Linked DNA regions of Homo sapiens. The protein of the gene in region 1 purifies or fractionates together with the protein of each later gene. This does not show direct contact. Each region holds a gene or a part of one and is shown on either strand. Other genes may lie near its edges. The genes, in order: GOSR1, VSIG1, STX18, OCRL, PKP1, GDPD5 and NSF.

Region 1 (2,843 bases):
TTACTGGTAGGCACGGGCATTGGCACAATTGCTTTGGAAAAATGTCTGACAACATATCTTAAAACTGAGTATGTGCATCACCTATAATCCAACAATCTTATTCCTAGGTATAAGCAACAGAAAAGTGTACATGTGTGTCCCAAAACCCATGTTCGAGAATGTCCAGAGCAGCACAATTTGTAATAGTTCCAAACTAAAAATAAAAGCTATCGGTCTAGAATGGAATGACTAAATAGAATGTGTGTACTTATAGAGCGTGGTTCTCCACCTCTGGCATGCATCAGAACCGCTTGGAGGCTGGTTAAACTGATTGCTGGGTTCCACCTGTCTATCTACACAGAACCGACCTTATATTTCCCCGCTCAGCTGCCTTTATCAAAATTAAGGATGTCTGCTGATCACCTCTTGAATGTTCTCTCCTCTCCCACATCAGCAAGAGGGAAAAAAAGAGGCAAAAGAGGCCCGGTTTCTCGCTATTAGGACAAACCCAAGGATATCTCTTATGTCAGGTGAGCCCTGTACCCCTGGCTTTGCTGAGATGCTTATGAGCATTTCCTCACATAACCCTGACAATATAATCAGGGCACAATTATGGTAGCCATCCTTATCACCATTTTATAGAAGAGGAATTGATCACTGGCTGGATTAATTGCAAAGCTCTAAAATTAGACAGTGGGGCTGGTTGCACAACTAATGTACTAAAGCCCAGCAGTACACGATTTTTAAAAAATTAATTTATTTTTGAGACAGGGTCTCTGTCACCCAGGCTGGAGTACAGTGGCACAATCGTTGCTTACTGCAGCCTTGACCTCCTGGGCTCATGATCCTCCTACCTCAGCCTTCCGAGTAGCTGGGACTATAGGTGCACACCATCATGAATGGCTAATTTTAGTTTTTGTAGAGACAAGGTCTTTGCTGTGTTGCCCAGACTGGTCTCAAATCCCTGGTCTCAAGCAATCCTCCTGCCTCGGCCTCTCGAACTGCTGGGATTACAGGTGTTAGCCACTGCACCCAGCCAATTCTACAATTGTAGATTCCCATTATGCCTCCTGAAGTTTCATGTTAAGAGATTCCCCTTCACTTCTAGGGCTAAAATACTAGTGGACTGTTCATATGATGGTTTCTGAATGACATGTGACAGCTTTTCAGCACCTGTATTATTTCATCCTGGGTTTCAGGACATCATGAGAAACACTTATCAACACCAGAGATACCATAATCTCTATCCCCAAACTACCTTGATGGTTACTGTTTCAATATAAACAATTACAAATGCAATCATTTAGATTTCTAATTTATTATTAAATTACATACCAAAGCTTCTTCTATACAGTCAGAAAATGCACATTTAGATGAGAACAAAAATTAAGTACAAATACAATAAAATTGGTTCCAAGAAGCTATTTTAAAAGCAAAAACTTACAAAGTGCATTTGGAAAACAATAGGTTTTAAAAATCTGTATTGGCATTTTTTCAAGAGGAAACATCTTCCATCACAGGAAAGTATGGTTGGAATTGATTTCCCTCCTCCCTTAAGAGCTAACAGGGTGGGAATGGATGCAAATACCTTGATATTAAAGTGAGCTCTCAGGTATCTTTTAATTTTTTTTGCAGAGACAGAGTCTTGCTACATTGCCCAGGCTGGTCTCAAACTCCTGGCCTCAAACGATCCGCCTGCCTTGGTCTCCCAAAGTGCTAAGATTACAGGCGTGAGCCACTGCACCCAGCCCTATTGTCATGGTTTTTCATATTTTTTCAGTGAAATGAAAAGTTTTGAGTGGTTACTTAAAAGGACCAAAAAGGAAAGATTCATTATAATAAGACAATAGTTGAGGGGGCATAACTTCCCCTAAGAGGTAACATTTGGATCCAGAAGTAGAAAATTCCTTCTGACCTCCTGGCTGTGACTAGCATTAACAAGTAACTAACTGTTAGCCTCTGAATCTGGTAACTGGTCCGTAAGGAGGACAGCAAAAAAGGAGAGAAAGCCAAGGTGGTTAAACAAAAAAGTTAAATGACATGGAGCTGAAAGAGCTCAAATCCCTTCATGGGATCCCCACGGAGCCCCTTCCTGTGGACACACACCTCTCTTCCCTTGCTGGAGGTTTCTTTCTGCAAAGAAACCCTAAGAGGAAAAAGCACTGGCCTAGCTGTCTACATGTGGCCCTGGGTCACCTTAGTATAGGCTGCAGCACGGAGAGGTTAGTCAGACCTATCTGACACCAACATCCATACCAAGCCTTTTAACTTCCTTGGAAGAACTGGTTTATTTTCATAAAGAAAATAACCAACATAATTCCATTACTTCACATAAGCAAAACCCTAATGGAAAGGCCCATCAGCCATCAACAGGGTTTGCTTGGCTGCAGTGAGCTAGACTAGCTTGTGTCCCAGTTCACTCTCACACAATCAGCTTTAATGAATGCACAAAAGAATCAGACCAGTAAAAAAGACTGGTAGTATAATTAAATAAATAACTTTATTTATGATACTTCAGATTTTATAAATGCCAACTACATAGCAAAGTCCCATAAATTTTAACCGAGACACAACCACCAATCAAGGCCCTTTGAAAAATCAAAGATAATAAAGTGTCAAGGGAGAAAAGTTTTGTTCTCCCAACAGAGAATTTAATCAATGAACTTACTTCTCTGATCATTTAAGGTTCACAATGGGAAAACTTCTTTTCTTTTAAGGGTACCCTGAATCAATTAACAGTCAATCAACCCACATTTAGAAAAATAAACCCCATAGTTAAGAAAAATATATCAAATGCCCTTCACACCCATAATGTAACAAAACTTTGACACCAGAATGAAAAACTTCTCAGTCTCTGTACCAAA
Region 2 (3,500 bases), on another chromosome or scaffold:
AGGTAATTCCTGAGGTCCCTTCATAATACACACCTTCTATGTACATGTTTTGTTGGTTTCATGTAAATGTATATTATTCAAGTGATTGTTATTGTTCAATAAACTGTATTGTCTTAGTCTGGTGAGACTAATTTTTCATAAAATCTACTGGAAGGCCTTACAGTTCATTTAATTCACTTCCCTCAGTTTACAGAAGAAACCAAAGCCCAGAGAGGTTAAAAAATAAAAGGCAAAATTGACGGTTGAGACAGATCTGGAATCCAATTTTCCTAATTCCTTGTACTGTGGGCTTTACCTTAACAGGCCAATAAAAGAGGGAAAGCAATTAGAAAACCAAAAGATATTGTCTAGATGAATTCAAATGTATTCTCCTTTAAGCAGAAAGTCAATATATTTTAAAACTAAGGCAGAAAGCTGGATTTTGAGGGAAAAATCCCAGGAAAAGAGTACATTTACAGAGAAAACTATTTGTTTCTCTCCCGTTTTTTCTAACATCAACGTGTTTTCTTGCTTGCATTATAAATGCAGCCATTTATAATTCATTCATTCACACCTACTGAAATCACAAACTCTTGCCCCAGAATGGTCTTGTTTGACTTCCAAACCAGAAAGCCAGGATTAACTCCAGGTATTCAAGTGGGACAGAAGGAGGTTCAATACATCAGAGGATTACTTTCATTTGAGTTGGCACCCACGCTATCAGGCTTTCAATTTCACTAGGCAGCATGGGGCTTATTTACTTTCTAATTGACAGTTTGAGGTCTTGTTGTTTCTTACCTGGAGTTCAGCCTGCTGTCCATCAAGAGTGCCCTTCACAGCCTCAACATCTGGCCACTTCCCCTCCTCCCAAGGAGACTGTGGACAGTGTAAAACATCAGCCCTGTTTTATACTGATGCTTGATGACATCACAATGAGATACAACATCAGTCACGCCTGAGGCCCACAGCAAGTCCCAGAGGATCCAGGTGAAAAGGACCTTATTTCTGCAGAGATCTTGAGGCCAAAATGGTGTGTTTTAGGCCAGAATTAGGATATGAGAAGAAGTAAAAGTGTCCACTGTATCCATGTGTCCATGCCCACTGTAAAAGTCCCATAGTTGGGCATGAGTCAAGGTGAAATGAGTATATAAGCAATGAGGCCCTGGAACCTTACCCATGAAAAAGACCTTTACTACCTCTTACATGCTAGCTCCTCATGCTGTAGTCTAATACATTTTGCCCTCTCACGATTGACACTAAAAGGTATTAGAGACAGAAATGGGGGTAGTGAGGGCTAACAATGGAGACCTAAAAGAGCCAAGGCTTTGGCTTCACAGTTCTCTGTAAGAAGTAAAGTACCTAGGGGTAGACAGCAGCAGCCAGACACATACATGGAGGGGCTTTCTGTTAAGGGGAAGTCCACACAGTCACACTGTCCTTGTAAAGAAAAAAAGAAAGAAGTGTTTTCCTGAAACTGCTTATCTAATCATATAGGAAGGGCTACAACTTGATTCCACTTTCCATAAAAGAATAACTCTTTTAAAAATCAAAGCTGAACAGTGGCCAAAGCCTGGCCCATGATCCTGTGTGGCTTGTACACTTTTCAAAGAAAGAATATTATCAATTTAGACGTCAAAGCAATGGAGATCCAGAAAAAGCCCCGGATGTACAATGGGCCACATCTTTGGGTGGAGGTGGGGAGGAGGTGATTTTTTTAAGGAAATCCATCCCAGTGTTCCCTTAAGGGGCGCTTGTTAATTTTTTACCCACCTGCACTTTGTGCTTGGGTTCATGGTAGACTGCCCTGCTTTCTCCCAAGGTCCTCTCTGCCTGCCCCCAGGGTGACGCTAGAGGCTGATGGGTGGAGTCATAATTGCACATTAATTATAAGACCTCTGTGAGATAGTTTGGTTTGTGGTTTCTAAGGTTAAGGGGCCTTCAGGAGCCCGATGGATATTGGAAATATGGGAAATGGCTGGGAGGGGCTGGTAAGTAGTGGTAAGCTCATAACAGATATGGGGACTGCAGGGAACGGAAAAGTCAACGCAAACAAGGCATTCGAACTGTTGAAACAAACAAACAAAATACTGGGCAGGCCGACTGAAATACATCCACTGGCCAAATCTGACCCAGAGGCCTGCGGTTAGTAAACTCGAATTCATCCTTTTCTAATACAAAAAAAGGACACCGAGGCCTCAATAGAGGGAGCCATTTTCCCAAGGTCACACAATTTACAGTCAGACCTGGAATTCAGACCTTCTGATTCCCACTGAATATATTAAGATGGCACTCACAGTGCTTCTTAAGATGAGAAAGATGATTCCTGGGCAACCTTCTCCTTTTGGGACCATTCCATTCCCTGCTCCAGCCCAACCTTTCTCCTGCCAATTGTTGCTATTTATTGGCATGATGCTTCCCATGCTGAGTATGTTCACCACATGATGCCCTCAATATTTGCCAGCTGCAATTGTAGGCCCCTCAGTTCTTTGCAGAGCAACCTTTCCCTTCCTACTGTGCCAAGTTCCTATTCACACAAGGCCGTGCAGCTGGGAACCAGATTTGTCCTAAAAGACTTTTTCCTCAGCTTAGTGACACTGCTCTCTAACTAGAAGCATGGAGTATAAACAAGAAGGGTTGAAAGAATTCAGTCTGCTTTCTGTTTGAATCTGAGTTGGAGTTAGCTTCCAGAGCTGCTTTTGCAGATTCCTTCTGGGAAGGTGGAGGACATGGACATCCACAGCAAACCACCCATTCTTTCCTTTCCAGCTTCTTGCTTTCTTGTACTGCTGATAGAGGGGCTAGCCATAGGATAGGGAAGGGGTGTGCAGGTATAAGGTGGCAATGGTCACAAGCTCAGAATTTTATTTGGACTGTATTGTGGTGCAGGGATGGCATGTGGAAGGAATGGGATACCAAAAGAAAGACTCTCTTGCTTCCAAACCAACTCTCTTACCAACCCTCCATTTGCCTGGGTATCTGCCATTTGAGTTGCTCCTTTTGGAAGAAGGCATGGAAGGTCCCATTCAATGCATTCTTTAGAAGAGAATAAAATAAGCTTTCGCTAGTCCCTAACACCTTACCATGAGATTAATTTATCAGATTTAGCAGAAAGTGAATGGGACACAATACATAAATTTGATGGTGGGGTGGGGAAGAACTTGCAGTATTTCTCAGTAGGGGTGACACTGGCATTTTGGGCAGACAACTCTTTATTGTGTGGCTCTGTCCTGTGTATTTCAGGTTGTAAAACCTGAGAAGCCAGAGAACATAAGAACACTAGGTCCTGGGAAAGAAGTTGTCTAAGTTGTTTATGAGACTGGCAAAGGGTATTTTTTCACTATGAACATTCTTGAAGAATAAGTATTGTCTGAGAGATTCATGCTAAGCAGAGTCAAGGCATGGTCTGTTCAGGGACAGGTGGGGTCTCTGTAGTGTTAGCATTAACAGACTGGATGGAAGATGAAGCCATCTGTGTGACCAGAAAGGCACCAGACCACCCCAAATTTCCATGTTAGCCTGCC
Region 3 (3,500 bases), on another chromosome or scaffold:
ATGAGGCTCCCAGCAAGCACCAACTTGCTAGCCATGTGTGTGGCCTCCTTGGAAGTGAACCCTCCAGCCCTGGTCAGCCCTTCAGATGACTGCAGCCCTAGTTGCCTTCTAACTGCACCCTCCTGAGACACACAGAGCCAGAACCACCCAGCCAAGGTGTTCCCAAATTCCTGACCCCAGAAGCAGTGATCAGTAATAAATCTCACTGTTTCAAGGCACTAAGTTTTATGACTCAGCTGTAGTAACCAGAACAATTAAAAAGATTGATAACAGTGACTTTTGAAAAAATTTTTTGTTAAATTTTGTAGAGGACCATTTCCTAAATAGTCTTTTTGAGAAAACTGCTCTCAAAAAACTCTGTGAAGAGAGTGTCTGCAATCAGGTTATTTGCAAATACCATCCTTTTTGGAAATTCAAAATGTATTTGAGCATATTAAAGGCTCTGAAAACTTATATAGTGAAACACCTTTCTAGCTTTGACTCAGCTTTCTCAGACTGATTCGACCACAGAAGTCCTTTCCCACAGCCCAGGATGGGTAGAATATACCCCACATGGAGCAGTTGTTACGAGCATGGGCTTCAGAGCTAGGTTCCCTGAGGTCATGTCCCAGCCCAGCCATTTGCTGACTGTGACCTGGGCAAGTTTCCTAACTTCTCTACACCTCAGTTTCCTCCTTTGTTAAAAGGTTGTTAATACTAGTACCTACCTGATGGGGATATTCGAAATTAAATAAATTTATCCATACAAATTGCTTAGAAAAAATGTCCACTATATGAGCCATTAACAAATGTTAGCTGGCATTAGTAATATCACCCTAATATGCATTTACATTGTTCCTTTAATTACAGTCTCTCTGCCTAACAATATGGAATTTATCCTAGATAGCACTCTGCCTATAATTTTATAGCATTTATGTAGATTCTAGTAAAGCTATTACAAAGCCTGTTATTGCATAACCTAAACGTTTTCTTATTAACCAGTTACTTGTATTTATAATGCACTCATTCATTCAACATATATTTATGCAATGGAATACCAGGCACTAATCCAGAATCTGGGATCTAGGAGCAAGGCTGACAACCAACAGATAAATAAACAGGGGGATTATAGACTGTGATAACTGCTATGGAGAAAACAGATGCAGAGGAGTGGGAGGCGGCCTTTCCTTCACAGAAGAGTCAGAGGTGGCCTCTCTGAGTAGGTGAAATTGAGCTGAGCCCTGTAGATGGGAAGGAAGACGATGCCCTGGGAAGAGCCCGTGGGGAAGAAACAGGGGAATGCCAAGTGCAGAGGACTCAGTCCTGAAACAAGTCTGTGCCTTCAAGTGGGTATTTAAGGACTTGTGCTTTCAGAGCTAACTTATATTAAGATGTGACTTAGAACATATACGTGTGTGGGTATAGGTATATATATGTGTGTGTATGAGTATATATGTTGGGGGGTATGTGTGTGGGGGTGTGTGTGTGTATATATATGGGTAGGGGGTATATATGTGTGTGTTTCTGTGTGTGTATGTGGGAGTATATGTGTATGTATATGTGGGGGTATATATGAGTGTGTGTGTGTATGTATATATGTGTATGTAGATATATGTGTGTGGGGGAGGGTATATGTGGGGGGTATATATACATATCTGCACATATATGGTGTGTGTGTGTATGTAGGGGGTATATATGTGAGTGGGGGGTATATATATGTAGTATATGTATGTGGGTGTGTATATATGGTATGTGTATATGTGTGGGTATGTGTGTGTATATATGTGTGTGTGTTTATGTGGGTGAGTATATGTGAATATATGTATGTGGTGTGTGTGTATATGTGGGGGATATACATGCATGTATGTATATATATGGGGTATGTGTGTATGTAGGGGGTTATATATGTGTGGGGGGTATATATATGTGGTATATATATTGTGTGTATACATGTGGGGGTATGTGTGTGGGGGTATATGTGTGGTGGTATATATGTGTGTGGGTATATATGTGGGAGGGTATGTATATATGTGTGCATGGGTATATATATGTGGTATATATGTGTGTGTGTGGTGTGTGTATATGTGTGGGTATACATGTGTTGGGGGTATATATGTGTGTGGGGGTATATATATATATATGAATATATGTATAATATGTATTATATATTATTATTAATAACATACTCAGCAATCTTTTTGCATTAGTGTCAACTACTGGGTAAGCATCAATCCAGCTTCCTGGGTTTGTTGAGTGCGGTGTGTCAGTCTATGGAGCGTATTCAGCACATACCAACTGCAGCCTCCCCCTGCATGCTGGTCACTGTGCCGTGGCTGCAAATGCAGAGGGCATGCACAATCTCTACCCTGCAGGCAATAATGCCAGTGTTAAGTGCCCCAGTGGAGGTGTGTCCGGATGGCCACTGGGCCCAGAGGCAGTGACTGCTCCCCAGTACAGGGACACAGAGCAAAAGCGCAGGGTCACATGTGACTCCTTCTGTTTTCAAAAAGGAATCCTGTTATGGAAATAAAATACCTGCCTGCTAATTATTTATTTTTAGATCTAAGCTGGAACCAGAACCAAATACAAAGACAAGAGAATCCACATCTTCTGAGAAAGTTTCACAGAGTCCTTCAAAAGACTCTGAAGAAAACCCTGCCACTGAAGAACGTCCAGGTACGAATTGAGATGAAAATCTCACCTTGCATTTCTTCCTTGTGACATGTTGGCAAGAGTACAGCACAGGAACGAAGTAGCACAGTCTCAGACATGTTTTGGTGTTTGTATTTGCATAAAGCAAAGGAAGCAGGAGGCGGCAGCCTTTGTGTCTGTCACAGTTGATCTTCGTGAGTGCCACAGAGGCAGGGGGTGCATTCACCCAGTCACCTGGGAGCTGGCGGGGTCCGGGAGAAAGGGCCTGCTGGAGGGGTGAGGCCGGGAGCTGTCTGCCTCAGGAGCCCTGTGTGCCGGCCTCAGGAGAGGCAGCATTGCCTCCCTGGCAGCCATGCCCTGCATGTCAGCTCTGAGCTGCCAGGCCTGCATCCGGGTAGAGTGTATAACCTCAGCAGCCTTGCACAGCCAGTCAAACCAACAGGACAAAATGCAAATCTGAATTGACGTGCTGCCTATCACCACAGATACTAGAGGGCCCATGGCTTAGAATAGTTCCTGATGCACAGGAGATGCAGAAGAAATACAGGGTCTCCATGAAGTCCGAAAATGTAGGGGGACATACACAGTGTGGTCATGGATGTCTGCGATCTGTGTGTCTGGCTGGTACCCCTGCGTAGGGATGCCTGCATAGTTTGCCATATCTCAAAGGCAGAGTGGAGCAGGGTTCTTTGTGTGAATCACAGGGTGATGGCGTGCTGGAGCCAGGAGAGACCTGGGAGTCCCCTTTAGCATCCTTCTCCGTAGTCTCATGGCAGTTCTTATTAACTCTTGTCTTCCAGATGCTAGGCATGGTCCTGGACATGTCACAGAAATTACAGGTTGAGTATCTCTTATCTGAAATGCTTGGG
Region 4 (3,500 bases), on another chromosome or scaffold:
TCTCTTAGTATTTTTAATAAGAAATCAATTGCTGATTGTTAGATCGTAGTGCTGCTTCTTAGAACCTGGGAAAATATGTGCACACATGTAACGTAGTTCCCCATGACTAAAGGAAGACTTACTTTTGATTTTCATCTCCTTTCTATTTCCTGACCCCTGCATCTATTTTGTAAACTGTGGCCAGGCGCGATGGCTTGCACCTGTAATCCCAACATTTTGGGAAGCTGAGGCAGGAGGATTGCTTGAGCCCAGGGGTTCAAGACCAGCCTGGGCAACATTGCGAGACCCCATCTGTACAAAAATAAAATTAAAAAAACAACATTTGCCAGACGTGGTGGCAGATACATGTAGTCCCAGCTACTTGGGAGGCTGAAGCAGGAGGGTTGCTTGAGCCCAGCAGTTCGAGGCTGCAGTGAGCTGTGATTGTGCCACTGCATGCTAACCTGGGTGAGAGAGTGAGGCCATCTCTAAAGAAAAAGAAAACCGGCTGGGCGCGGTGGCTCAGGCCTGTAATCCCAGCACTTTGGGAGGCCAAGGTGGGCAGATCACAAGGTCAGGAGATTGAGACCATCCTGGCTAACACGATGAAACCCCGTCTCTACTAAAAATACAAAAAATTAGCCGGGCATGGTGGCGGGTGCCTGTAGTCCCAACTACTCGGGAGGCTGAGGCAGGAGAATGGTGTGAACCTGGGAGGCGGAGCTTGCAGTGAGCCGAGATCGTGCCACTGCACTCCAGCCTGGGTGACAGAGCAAGACTCCGTCTCAAAAAAAAAAAAAAAAAAAGAAAAAGAAAACCATCTGTAAACACTCAGGTTTTACAGAACTAAAAGTTAATGAAGAACAGTAGTAAGCATACAATATCTATGTCTTGATGCCCTAATTCCCCTTGTTTAATCATCCTAATAATAATATCGAGACTACTTTTTAGTGTTAAAGGAGTTAGTTCCTTGCCAGTTGCTTCTGTTGTACCTGAGTAATGGAGCCAAATAAACAATTCAGTCTTGGGAGGGAGGTGAAAAAGGTGAGACTACTCCATTTGACCAAGGTAGATCCAGGCTAATCCCAAGGAGTCAGTACCCAGAGTTCAATTAGCCAGGAGGGTCTGGCAGGTGCACTTGGTCAAATCCAGAGAAATCAGAGGGGAAGAGATAGGTTGGGTCTAGACACTTGTTGTAAAGGAAGAAGTCCAGGAGAACCATTGAGAGATAAGAGAAATCCAAACTTGCAGACTGCTTTGCACCCTGTTTGGTACGGAGGGCCTTGGGCCCACAGGTAGTAGTTGTAACCTGAAGGTATACTCTGCCCCCATGTGTGGGGCAGGGGCAGAGGTGATGAGATCACTGGGAAATTTTCAGAGAATAGATCTGAGTTAAGAAAGTAATTCACCTCTGGGCTTTCAGGGTCACTTCCTTTGCCTTCTGTTATCTAAAGAAGTATCTAAAGGACCCAGAGTTAAATCATTATGTTACAGTTAAGGGGAATTAAACTTGCTTTCGCTGAATTAACATGTTGTTATGTTCTGTACTATTAATTTCTCATTCGTTGATTTGCTTTGAGGAGTTCCATTTGGTTACTTCTTCAGTTCATTTTTATTTTAGTTGATTTGCTCATAGTCTTTAGAACCCAGTGCTATAAAAAATCCCTTTAAAAAATATTAAACGAAAAGGGATTTAAAAAAATATGTTCTAAGACCTAGGAGTAGTGACTGAGAGAAGCAGTTATTTAGTTAGGCATGTATTCTTTTGGTTGTAGTGAGTGGTTTTCTCTTCCCTAATCCTACTCTCTTTTTTTTCCCCTCTCAGAAGCAGAAGAAACTCTTTTGATTGACATAGCTTCTAACAGTGAGTATCTTTCTGAATGTGCTTGATTTTTACTCAACAAATATTTACTTGAACACTCACTACATTTAAGACACCTTTTGGGGCACATTTTTTATTTTACCATCTTTTCCTGTAGTCTCCTGTAGCAGCCATACAAATTAGCACTGTTTCCCAAAAACATGTAGGCTAAGCCTAAGAAAAAGCAGGTGGCTGGTAAGAATCTTTATAAAAATAAAAAATAATGATCTACCTTTCTAATGCTGAACTTCCGTGAGCTACCAGTATTGTTGCTGTCAGTTGAATCATTGCTGTAGAATTGATAATTGTAGGAAGGGCTGATGTTTAAAGCACATAAGGTTTATTGGTGGAGTTTTTTTGGTCATTTTTTAACTGCTATTACATTTTAAGTTTTTTCCCTACCCTCTTTTTAAATTTTGTGTGTTAAGTCATAATATTTTCCTTTATTTGTTGTATTTTTTTGGAAGGCTGAAGAGTCCCTTAAATTGCTTGTCCAGGCATTCCTTTAAAAAAAAAAGTTTAGTCTTTTATTTAAGCCCCATCCCCTCAAGGCATCTCTTTATTAGAGGGAACATGATCTTCTTTTCAATGTTTCCATTCTCTCATTTTTATCTGTTTGAAGCAAATCATCTTTGACTTTCTGTGCAAACTGTTCTTTGTTTATCATCTAATTGTACTATTTTATGGAGTGGAGAAAATGGGCACTCGATGCTACTGTGAGGTTGCTATGGAAAAGAGTATCTGACCACATGAATCTAAATCAAATGGGTTGCCTTATCTCTTGGTTGAGTCCTTGGATGAGTGGGAACTGGCACTGAGCTTGGGACTAGGGGTTTACATAACTTTGTTTAGACAGTCCCTGCCCTTGGCACTATTAATTTGTATTGAACACTTTAAGTAGGCTTTTTTTCTGGCTTGAGTTTTTTTTTTTTTCCCTTTGGTCGTGAATTTTAGAAGTCTTAAAGGCTGTGCCTGAAAGGCCAGGTAAACCCCAGCTGCAAGTATCCAAGAGAGAAAATAACTTAATGTCTATTTCTTATTGTGCTTAGAAAGGAGAAGGCAAAAACAACACTTAAAAAAGCAAAACTAGAACAAAAGCAATTCCATAACAACTGACACTGCTGCTGAAATAAGAGATGGAAATGTCCTGTATTTGATGTGGAGAAGTATTTGATTCAAAGCTGAAAAGTTAAACTGAGCTGTGCCTTTTCTCTTATAAGCACCTAATTTTCGGCATTAGTTTTGTTGTGGCCGCTTCTACATTAGCCATGTGTTGCTATGTCCAGAGTTCTAGTTACTGGCTCATAGGGGGAAAATAGGTAAGTGACCACTTGAATAAAATCCTTTGTTATTTCTACCCATTTAGTAGTATTTGCACTGAAACCATATTTTATCTTGATCCTTGGGCTTCATACATAAACCTTTATGGTACACGGTGTGTTGCAGGAAGGAGATCTTGGGTTTGTTAGGCAGGCCTGATTTTAATGTAAATATGCATTTTCCCATTGTCTGGATATTGGTGTTAAATGCTTTGTAAATAATTTTTTCTCACAGAAGTAATACATCTTCATTATATACAATTTACTAATTCAGAAAAGCTTAAAGTATCAAATTAAGATTATTTTCCTGCAATCTAGAGATCACCACTGTGGTTAACATT
Region 5 (3,500 bases), on another chromosome or scaffold:
TTTTGAGGTTAAAGAGCAAAAGGAGGAAGGCTGATGTCCAGGCAAGATCCATATTCCACAAGCCCTGGGATTCCCAGGTGATGGAAAGAGAGTAAGACTGAGGGGAGAAGGGGTTAACAGGCCTTAAGCACCTACCCTGTGTTCAAGAAATATGGTAGGCACTCAAGGTGGGGGGCACAAGAGGAAGAGGTCACCGTGAAGACCTAGAATTGGGCTGGGAAGATCAGACCATGTACAGAGTAATGACTGATAAGTATTTCTGGCATAACTTTCAGATGGAAAAGAGACAGCGTTAGAAGACTCCAAGTGCTAAAATTTATACTAAAAACCACTGATCAATCAAACGTTTTTTGATCACTTTCCACATGCATAATTTTGGCCTTGACAGAGAACTCTGAGATGTTCCCTGCCTGCAAAGAACCTTCAGTCTGGTTGGGGCATTGAGAAATAGCCTCATGACACAGACAGACAATAGGTTCTACAGACCAGGGCTACCTGGAAAGCGACATTTCAGTAGGGCCCATTTGCCAGAGTCCAGGCTGGGGCTGTTACCTCGGTCCCTAGGGCATCCTGAGCCTGGCACAAATTGGGTTGATGGTCTCTGACCCCCAGGGCTGCTCTGGAACCTGTCTTCCACTGACGAGCTGAAGGAGGAACTCATTGCCGACGCCCTGCCTGTTCTGGCCGACCGCGTCATCATTCCCTTCTCTGGCTGGTGCGATGGCAATAGCAACATGTCCCGGGAAGTGGTGGACCCTGAGGTCTTCTTCAATGCCACAGGCTGCTTGAGGTGAGAGAAGAGGATACATGGGGTCTTTTTGTCCCAGCCTTGGGCCCTTCCCCAGGCAGCCCCATCTCAGCCAACATTCAGCCGGTGCATAGAACATAACAGACAACCCGGCACTCCCTCTTATGGGCAGGCTCCAAGACACAGGGACTCAGGCCTTCCTAACTTCCCTGGAACTGGATAAGGCCCAGGACCCTACCACCCCCTTTGAGAGAATGCAGCGGACATTAGTCAGAAATCTGAGCTTGAAAATGCCTAGATCTGAATATCCAAACTGGTTCAACCATTTCCCTCCTCCACCCCATGAAAAAAAATGCATTTCTTGTGCTATCATCTTGAAGAGTGTTCTTTTAGACAAAAGTCTACCGATGGGTTGCTAATGAGTCACTTCCCAGCTGTGGTGTTAAAACCATTTGCCATGTTCATTGGCATGAAGATGGCACTGCTTCACCCAAAGTTGCCTAAGTTCCATACCAGGGTGTGGCAAAGCCCCTGTGGGGCTGGTGGGAGGGCTTGTTCTAGAAGCAGTGGTTTACAAGCTGGCGAAATGGGTGGGTGTGGAGGGGCGGCTGGTACAGGGCTTGGAACCCTGGAGCAGGATCCCTTTTAGGGTCTTTAATGGGGTTTGTCTTGCTTTAATGGGATTTGTCTTTCCCAACTCCTGAGAATCCCCCCAGAGTGGTGGGTGCAGCTGGCATGTGCCTCTGTGTCTCAACTTGTGTTTCTCCCTGCCAGCCTCCGGTAGCAGCCTCCAGGAAGCAGAGAGGCTGGGGAGATGAAAAGTGAGGATAATTAAGAGTTTTATGGGGTTGATGTGCTACTGGTAGCAACAGCAGCCACACCCCACCTGCACCAGGCTGATGAGCCCACATTGCTTGGGGATGAGCCCACATTGCTTGGGAGTGAGCCTACTGCTGGGGGCAGAACACAGCTTGGGTGGAGAGGGAGCTTCTGGTGCCCAGCCCGGCCACCCCCAGATCCACTTCTGATCCAGCATCAACAGGGCTTCTTCCTGTCCCACAGAAAGAGACTGGGCATGCGGGAGCTTCTGGCTCTTGTTCCGCAAAGGGCCACTAGTAGCAGGGTGTGAGCCTTGGGATGCAGCTGCGGAGGGACCGTTGCCACATGGAGCCATTGCCAGTTATAAAGTTACTGGGCAGAGTGAAGGAGGAGAAGAACTGAGTGCAAATGAGACCTCATTTCAGCCTCAGCCAGGGCCAGGCGGAATTGGCTAAATGGTTTCTCTTTCCTTCCGTTTTCATCTTTTCCTCTCTTCATTCCTTTCCTCCCTTTCCTCTTCTCCTTCCTTCCTTCTACCACAACTTCCAATCTCCACCCCGTCGTCTCCTCTCTGCCCTCCCCTCTCCTGCCTGTTCTCTCTCCTGCCTGTCCCCCACCACACTCTCTTGTCCCCACCTTCCCCGTTCTCTCTTCCCCCTTTCTCTGCCCTCTTCCACCCTCTTCTCTCCCCCAGGAACCTGAGCTCGGCCGATGCAGGCCGCCAGACCATGCGTAACTACTCAGGGCTCATTGATTCCCTCATGGCCTATGTCCAGAACTGTGTAGCGGCCAGCCGCTGTGACGACAAGGTGAGTGCATCCCCTGGTGGCACCCTGACCCCTAGGCCCAGCCCCCTACATTTTCTGGGTGCCTTTGAGGCCTGGCCCAGTGACAAGACAGGAGCACAGACTCAGGGGTGGTAGAAGAGGCATCTGGATGCAGGGCTCAGTGGTGGCTACAGGAGTGGGCTCTGGGGACAGCGTGCCCATGCAAATCCACTCTCCCTCACTTAGAAGTGGAGTAGATGCAGCTGCTTCCCTAATCTCTCTGTTTCCCGGTTCACTCTTCACTCTAATGGAAAGGGTCATAATCATATCAACCTCAAGGGTTGTCTGAAAGGCTTGATTAGTTAATAAGCAAAACACGAAGAGGGCCTGGCACAGAGGAAGCTCCCAGCGAGCATCTGCTGGCTGTGCTTCATTGGTGGTGCTGAGGCCTGTCCTGTGACCCCGAGCCCTGCCCCACAGCCCAGAGGAATCCATACTGGTGCCCCCAGGGCTTAGTGTCCCCCCTGAGATGAGGCTCCTTCTGCCACTGCTATCTTCCCACTGCCTCCCAGAAAAGCCATTGGCAGTCATCTTGCTGCCCTCTCTGGACTTCTGGACACACAGCACAGACAAACAGAAAGAAAAAAAGTTGTGGAGGGCAGATAAACAGAAGGCTGAGATGTTCCCACCATGGCAGGACAGTGGCTCAGGAGATAGTGAGGCCCAGCAGGCTCCAGATCGCCAGGGAACGGGCTGACATCACAGCACCTGGGTTCTCAGCACAGTTGCCGTAAGGAGGGATTTTATCTCCTGCTCCCTCCACTGGAAGCAACAGCAGGGCCACAGAGGAGAGCCTTGTCACTGGGCTGCTCAGCCTGCTTCCAAAGGGCAAGATGCTTTTCTGCTCTGTGTGCAATATCTCCAACACCTGTGTAACCCCAAGCCCTGGAAGTCAGATTCCCTTAGACCCCAGCAAGGGCCAAACATCATTAGGAGGGTAAATCTGCTGCCCCCAAACCCTAGTCCTTTGGAGGTTTGCCAAAGGAGATTGACAAAGATCTGAGCCCAGCTGCCATGATGAAGCCCTGGGCTCCAGGTGTTGCTGTGTTTTGTGTGGACTTAGCACCGCTGACATTGACAGCTAAGGACTGGCCCCAGGAAGAAAG
Region 6 (3,500 bases), on another chromosome or scaffold:
CTGCCCTTTGCCTGGGATTCATTCCAAACGCCTTTCCTGAGCACCTGTTTTCTCTAAGATCCTCTGTGAGGTGCTGGAGATACAGATCATAACAGCTAACCTGCACTGAGTGCTCATTATGTGCTGGGCATTTTTTTGAGTGCTTTACACGTATAATTCATTTCACCCTCACAACTCTATGATGAAGATGCTGTAATTATCCCCATTTTACATATGGGGAAACTAAAGCCCAAAGAGGTTAAATCACTTGCCCAAGTCATTTAGCCCTACCCTGTGCCACCAGCCACAGATACTGATGGGACCGGCCCCTGCCTCAGGAGCCTGCTTCTCACAATTTGGAAGTTTTGCATCTGTGTGTTTCCTTGTCTAATGCTGTTTCCCCCACAGACCAGAATCTCCAACCATGTTACATTTCGGTTGGATGTGTGTGTGAGCAGCACCAAATAAATGCTGCTTCCCTTTAAGGAAGAACTCACACTCTCTGCCCAGCATCTGCTAGCTGGACGCCAGACGGCTTCTCCCACCTGGGTCATTTCTTCTGCGTAGGCCTGAGAAGAAAACCCAAGTCCCCAGATATCCCAGTCCTGCTCCCTCCCCTGAACCTAGCTCGGGACCCTTCCAGGCCAACAGCACCTGCTTACACACCACTGTTCACAGGGAAGGTGGTGGGAACTGTGAATCTGCAAACCCCAGCTAAGTCCCCCTAAGGGAAGGCCTCCCTGCCATCTGGCACGCCCTCCCTCCAGCCATCACTCACTGGACTCTTCCATCAGCTTCTTACTGAGTTGCTCGTTCACGAAGCCATCGAGGGGATGGGCAAGAAGACTCATGCTGATGGAGTACCCACCTGTGTGCCAGGCCTGGACAGGCACCCCACTTCCTTCATCTCATTTAATAACAGTTATTATCAGCCCCAATGTACAGGGAAAAAACAGAGGTGCAAAAGTTGAGCAAGTTGTCCATGGGGCAGCTTGCACTGCCTCCCCTGGCCCGGAGGGTGTGGCTCTGTGCCAGGCACACTGCTAGGCACTCAGAGGGAGGGGAGGATTCGGTGGGGGCACATAGAATCTAGTTTTGACAAGCCAGCAAGGGAAGCAGACCAAGCAGAACCCCAATCCACAGACCACAGTCAGTGTGCAGAGGGCCATGAATCAGCAGCAGAGGAGGCTTGGATCCCACCTGCATGGGAGGAGTACTGGAAGCTTATAGCAGGCAGCATCTTTGGACCTGGTTGAACTCCTTACTGCTCTTTCCCATGGTCACAGCAGGAGAAAGGGTAAGCCTTGGCCTACAAAGCTCTGGTGCCCAGTGTGTGTTTGCCACCACCCCAAAGGGGGCAAAGGGAGGAGAAGCTGGCTGCCCTGCCAGTGACCCCGCTGTGGCCCGGCCAGCCTGCCTCCAGTCCCGCCAACTTGGCCTGGCCTGGCCCAGCCAGTTCCCAATCACAGGGTCTCCTCTGCCAGCTAATGACCATGCTGCCTGCAGCTCAGGCCACCACCCTCCTTTGGGCGAGGCAGCTACCCACACAGCCTGCTGGCCCAGACAGTGGCCAGGCCAAAAATCACAGCTGCCCGTCATACCACATCCTCTGGCCCTGGTGCTGTGGTCTCCTCCTCCTCCCTCCAGGGTCACGAAAGACGATGTAGAAAGCTGGAGCTACAGGGGAGCTCAGAACCCACCCTGCTCCCCATAGACATGGACACACGGGACCCCAGAGAGGGGCCGACTCACCCCAGGTCACACAGACAACCAGCCAGCCTGTGCACGGCCTAGGGCCCAGGTCCTTCCTGGGCCCCATGCTCAGTCCAACACTGCCCTTCCTTAGCCTTGAGAAAAAACCTTGTCCAGGCTTTTTACACACAAAGTATGCTTTCAAGGTACTTGGGTGGAGGTGAGGAGACAGGACATCTTCTAAGCACAGATTTACAATTCAAACAGATGCAGCTTGGCTCCCTGCTCCCTACCTTTGAGCTGTGTGACCTCGGGCAAGATCAGGTACCTCTCTGAGCCCCAGTTTCTAGGGGATAACAGTAGCTACCTCAGGGAGTTTGTGTGAACAAGAGTGTCTATAAAACATTTAGCACATTGTCTGGCTCATAGTAAGTACTCAAGATATCAGCTGTTGTTGATATCATCACTGTAGTATTGTGTGGATACATTTTACAAACTGCAAAATGTTATGGATAGTAGGTATTATTTTTTACTATTACTGCTGAATGTTAAAGATTCAGAGGGGGCATGACCAGAGGGTTGGGTAATCCAGGAATGTTTCTGAGGGAATTTATGACCTCAGTCAGGTCTTGACAGGTGGGGAGGTAAGTGGAGCAGAGGCAGGGATGGCGGTTCTGATGGGAGGAACCACAAACAAAGGGGCTGTGATGGGGCCACATGTGGTGTGTTTAGGAGACAGTGCAGAGCAATGAGCCAGAAGGCCGGGCAGAGGCTAAGGTGACCAAGGACCTGAATGCCATAACTAGGGCCTGGTCTTCATCTTACAGGCCGTAAGGAGCCACAGAGGCTTCTAAATGGGGGCTCCATTAAGCTTTCTGAAATGTGAGTTCTGTCTAACATTCAAGGCCCTCTCCTATATGGGCATTCACCCCTCACTAACCCCACCAAGCCATCCTCCTCGCCCCAAGTTCTCCCTACCTCTCGGCTTACCACGCTATCCCACCTGCCCCGCCACTAGCCCACTAGCTCACACTCATGATGAGGCACCCCCTTGTTGAGTGCCTAAAGTGCCGTGTGTTTCACACATGGGACCTCAAGATGATCCTTAACAGCCTTGAGAAGTGGACATCACAACCGTCATTTCACAAAGGGGGAAATGGAGGCCTGATGGGATCATGTGTCTTTCCCATGCTCTCAGTGAGGCGGTGGCACAGCCAGGATTCCTTCTTGGAGGGATGTCAGGACCCCCCGTCTTTGCAGCAAGTTTCCTCTAGCTCCTGCCCAGACAGCCACCTCCCTGACAAAGCCTTCCTGGTTACTCCAGTCCTCAAGGGCCTCCCCTCCACCCCTTTCTGCCCTGTACCCTCCCCCTTACTCCTCCCCGTCACCACCTCTCTGGAATCAGAGGCCCACTTGATCCTAGCTCAGCTAGCTTGGTTCCCAGTGTTGCCTGTGGGACCATCTGGCCCCCAACAGAAGAGACAGGACATCATCAACCCCAGCTCTCTCCTGTTGGGGGCCAGATGACACTTTCTCCCTGTCCTATCCTGCCTGCCCCCCCATATCCAAGACTGCTAACAGCACAGACAGGAGCCCCCACCTCCTCTGGTAGGGTTCAGAAGCTCACTGAACATAGAGCTATTTCCCTGAGCCTGCCCCCAGCTGAGGGGAGTATTAATTATTCACTGCACCTTGGTGCCTAGGGAGGTCAGACAATGGGCCCGAGGGAATGGACACCAGCTCCAGGCACCACAGCCCTGCCAGCAGGAAGCCAAGGGAGGGGGTAAGAATCCAGAGCCCCTTGCCGGTGTCCCCAAGCAGACTGATTC
Region 7 (3,500 bases), about 16 Mb from region 1:
GAAACATGAACTATTTGCACTACTGCTTACTTGCAAATCAGAAGGATAATATATTATGTACAAGGGTGACAAACATTTTAGCTTTACAATTAGAAAATGTGTAACTACAAAGAGTCAATAAAAATCAGAAATTCATATATTGAAAAGTACTGATATCCTCTCAAATCAGCCAATTAAAAAAATGGAGATAACTAGCATTTATAGAGTTTACAAGGCACTTTTATATAAAGTATTTGCTTTCATTCTCATAAAAATCTGATTAGATAGGTAGTGTCTCCCCTTGACAGGTCAGAAACAAAAAGGTGGAAGAAATATAATGCATAACCACACCTTCTGACTACGATATCTGCGATCTTCCCACCATCCCTCATTGCCTCATATGTAGATAAACCCAATATATGCTTGAAGAAAGCATGTTTCTTACTGAGACAACGGCTTAAAGTGAAATTTTGGGATAGGATTATTGTAGTTAAAATGACAGATGACTAAATAAGAGAAAAATTCCATGGCCAACACATATGAAAAATATGACAACTAGTAAACTAGTTACTGTGGATTACATCAAGATGCACCCATGTGGTCTGAGATGAAAGATCAGTATGGTAGGGACCAGTTTTCACACTGTTTACATCATTTTTCTTGAAGTTGCCATCTCTTCTTATTAAAACAGTATAGCATGGCCGGGCATGGTGGCTCACGCCTGTAATCCCAAAACTTTGGGAGGCCGAGGCAGGCGGATCACGAGGTCAGGAGATCGAGACCATCCTGGCTAACACGGTGATCCCATCTCAACTAAAAATACAAAAACTTAGCCAGGCGTGATGGTGGGTGCCTGTAGTCCCAGCTACTTGGGAGGCTGAGGCAGGAGAATGGCTGAACCTGGAAGGTGGAGCTTGCAGTGAGCCGAGATTGCACCACTGCACTCCAGCCTGGGCGACAGAGTGAGACTCCGTCTCAAAACAAACAAACAAGGAAGAATAAAAACATAGTCCCTGAATGGATCCATTATATAAAGACCCAATACAATATTCCCACACCATCCAAACCTTTGGCATTCTTGAGCTAGAACAAATCCACCTCTATTATGTAGGGAAATTATGACTTATGGATAGAGCGTGATTCAGAATAGTTACGTAAGTTTACTCATTTAAAAAATATTGGCTGGGCATGGTGGCTCACACCTGTAATCCCAACATTTTGGGAGGCTGAGGCGGGCGGATCACGAGGTCAGGGGTTTGAGACCAGCCTGGCCAACATGGTGAAAACCCATCTCTACTAAAGATACAAAAAATTAGCTGGGCGTGGTGGCACATGCCTGTAGTCCCAGCTACTTGGGAGGCTGAGGCAGGAGAATCACTTGAACCCAGGAGGCAGAGGTTGCAGTGAGCGAAGACTGTGCCACTGCACTCCAGCCTGGGCGACAGAGTAAGACTCTGTTTCAAAAAAAAAAAAAGAAAAATAATTTACTGGACACCTACCATGTGCTCATTATTTAGATCTATCTGGGGTACTATGGGAGACTCTGAGGTGAATAAGATAAGGATTTAAAGTCTAGAACAAGGGCCAGCAAACTTCTGTAAAGTGGCAGATAGTACCTAAAATAAAAGCACTAAAATAGGCTTTGTGGGCCATGCAGCCCCTATTGCAAATACTCAACTCTGCCACTGTAGCATGCAGGCAGCCATAGACAGTACACAAATTAATGTGTACTGTTCCAAAAAAGCCCTTTATTTATAAAAACTGGTAGTTGGCTGGATTCCTGGTCTAGAACCAGTGATAGGATATACCCAAATATCTACATACTCAACCTAACTGTTCAGGCTTTTATTTCTTGCCTGAACTGTTATAAAAGCTCCCCCTCTTGTCCTGTGTCGCCAACTCCACTCCTCTAACTACTCCACTCGACAGAGCTGCCAGAGTGATCTTATGTTTTAACACTATGTCACTGCTATTCTTAAAACTCAATGGCTTAGCACTACTCACAGAAAAAAAGTCCATACTTCTTAGCAGAGTATAAAAGGCTCTTTGTGCTCCATCCCTACTTTAGTCTCCTGACTTATCCCCCACAATCTCTCTACCATCCCTCCCCTAACTTCCATGCTGAAGCAATACTAAACTACTCCAACGCACTATGCTATTCTGTGTCTCTGCTTCTTTGCATATGTTGTTCCCTCTACCTAAAAGGCCCTGCTCTACCAACAGACATGCATATGAAGGTTTCTCTCACCCCACAAGTTGACCATATCTGACATGAGTTCACTCTCTTGCCTTGCATGTACTTTCTGTTACTGCACGTGGAGGGTTAGACTGAGGGCAGCTTAATGGTAGGTACTTTACTTCTTTGCAGTCGGGGTATTAACTCCTAGCACAGGGTCTAGCATGCAGTAGATGCCGAATAAATCTACTGTGAACCAAAGTCAACTGACAGTACCATAAATGATACATTACTATTTCAAGAAGGAAACGGGTATAACATTCTTGAAAGGGAAAATGTGAAAAGGTGTGAGGACAGTGGTAGCATATGAGCCAGGTTTTGAAAAGACAGGTAAACGTAGAGGATGAAGATCCTCAGTGATGCAAAAAAAACAAAACCAAAGCAGAGATGTTGAAAAATAAATTAATGTCTGATGACCGGTGATTATTTAAGTTTGGCTGAAGTATGTGGAGAATAATCAGGAGCACATTTGGAAAGGCCAGTTAGGGTCAGATCTAGAGGACCCAAAAGACCCAAAAGAAGCCTGTACTTTGTTTTGTAAATGATGGGGAATCACTGAAAGTGTCTGAATGGTTGAATGATATGATACAGGAAGGTTAATCAAAGAGAAGGTGGGTAGTGGCAGTGAGAACTAAAAGGCACTGCCAAGACAGAACTGAAAAAATTTGGCAAGTGACTTGACCTAGGGCACAGTAGAGTGCCAGGAATCAAAGATAATCCTGATGTTTTAAGCCTGGGAAATTGGGATAAACAGGGAAATGCGAGCAGAAAGGAAAGTAGTAAAAAAGACAATAAATTTGGTTTTGCAATATTAAATCTGAGACCTGATAAAACATCTAGGTGAGGGTATTTAGTACAAATCTGAAAGTAGGAGACAGATATGTTCAGTAAATCTGTCTACAGGTGGTAACTAAAACCTAAAGGAGAGAAGAGATGGAAGATCAAGAGCACTTTATCAAAATAAAAGTATCCTAGTACGTATTTCTACCATGGTAACTACAATATTATTGTACTAATTTGAAAATATGTCCATTTTCCTGACTCTGAACTCCTTGAGGGAAGAGTTCACAATTATCTTTATGTCTCCAGCCCAATAGCTTGAACACATCAACTATTCAATATATTTGCTGAATAAAGCAGCCCCCAAAATTCTAGTACGTGGAAACTCCCACTTCCTCTGACATATTACAACTTTTTTTTTTTTTTTGGAGACGGAATCTCGCTCTGTCACCCAGGCTGGAGTGCAGTGGCGCAATCTCAGCTCACTTCAAGCTCTGCCTCCTGG

The links.
Region 2: the proteins of GOSR1 (region 1) and VSIG1 purify together in Homo sapiens (co-immunoprecipitation; one large-scale study listed by IntAct). This does not show direct contact.
Region 3: the proteins of GOSR1 (region 1) and STX18 purify together in Homo sapiens (affinity purification with mass spectrometry; one large-scale study listed by BioGRID and IntAct). This does not show direct contact.
Region 4: the proteins of GOSR1 (region 1) and OCRL purify together in Homo sapiens (co-immunoprecipitation; one large-scale study listed by IntAct). This does not show direct contact.
Region 5: the proteins of GOSR1 (region 1) and PKP1 purify together in Homo sapiens (affinity purification with mass spectrometry; one large-scale study listed by BioGRID and IntAct). This does not show direct contact.
Region 6: the proteins of GOSR1 (region 1) and GDPD5 purify together in Homo sapiens (co-immunoprecipitation; one large-scale study listed by IntAct). This does not show direct contact.
Region 7: the proteins of GOSR1 (region 1) and NSF purify together in Homo sapiens (affinity purification with mass spectrometry; 2 studies listed by BioGRID and IntAct, with this or other methods). This does not show direct contact.

What each region holds. Positions count from the first base shown.
Region 1 is NC_000017.11:30,525,250-30,528,092, reverse strand, and holds the end of GOSR1 (Golgi SNAP receptor complex member 1), read right to left. Parts: 3' UTR 501-2,843; downstream 1-500. UniProt on the Homo sapiens protein: Involved in transport from the ER to the Golgi apparatus as well as in intra-Golgi transport. It belongs to a super-family of proteins called t-SNAREs or soluble NSF (N-ethylmaleimide-sensitive factor) attachment protein receptor.
Region 2 is NC_000023.11:108,062,065-108,065,564, reverse strand, and holds part of VSIG1 (V-set and immunoglobulin domain-containing protein 1 isoform 2 precursor), read right to left. Parts: intron 856-3,500; coding exon of another isoform or gene 778-855; intron 1-777.
Region 3 is NC_000004.12:4,437,549-4,441,048, reverse strand, and holds part of STX18 (syntaxin-18), read left to right. Parts: intron 1-2,539; coding exon 2,540-2,655; intron 2,656-3,500. UniProt on the Homo sapiens protein: Syntaxin that may be involved in targeting and fusion of Golgi-derived retrograde transport vesicles with the ER.
Region 4 is NC_000023.11:129,546,759-129,550,258, forward strand, and holds part of OCRL (inositol polyphosphate 5-phosphatase OCRL), read left to right. Parts: intron 1-1,804; coding exon 1,805-1,843; intron 1,844-3,500. UniProt on the Homo sapiens protein: Catalyzes the hydrolysis of the 5-position phosphate of phosphatidylinositol 4,5-bisphosphate (PtdIns(4,5)P2) and phosphatidylinositol-3,4,5-bisphosphate (PtdIns(3,4,5)P3), with the greatest catalytic activity towards PtdIns(4,5)P2.
Region 5 is NC_000001.11:201,318,006-201,321,505, forward strand, and holds part of PKP1 (plakophilin-1), read left to right. Parts: intron 1-612; coding exon 613-790; intron 791-1,810; coding exon of another isoform or gene 1,811-1,873; intron 1,874-2,261; coding exon 2,262-2,376; intron 2,377-3,500. UniProt on the Homo sapiens protein: A component of desmosome cell-cell junctions which are required for positive regulation of cellular adhesion.
Region 6 is NC_000011.10:75,519,442-75,522,941, forward strand, and holds part of GDPD5 (glycerophosphodiester phosphodiesterase domain-containing protein 5), read right to left. Parts: intron 2,417-3,500; exon of another isoform or gene 1-2,416. UniProt on the Homo sapiens protein: Glycerophosphodiester phosphodiesterase that promotes neurite formation and drives spinal motor neuron differentiation.
Region 7 is NC_000017.11:46,695,169-46,698,668, reverse strand, and holds part of NSF (vesicle-fusing ATPase), read right to left. Parts: intron 1-3,500.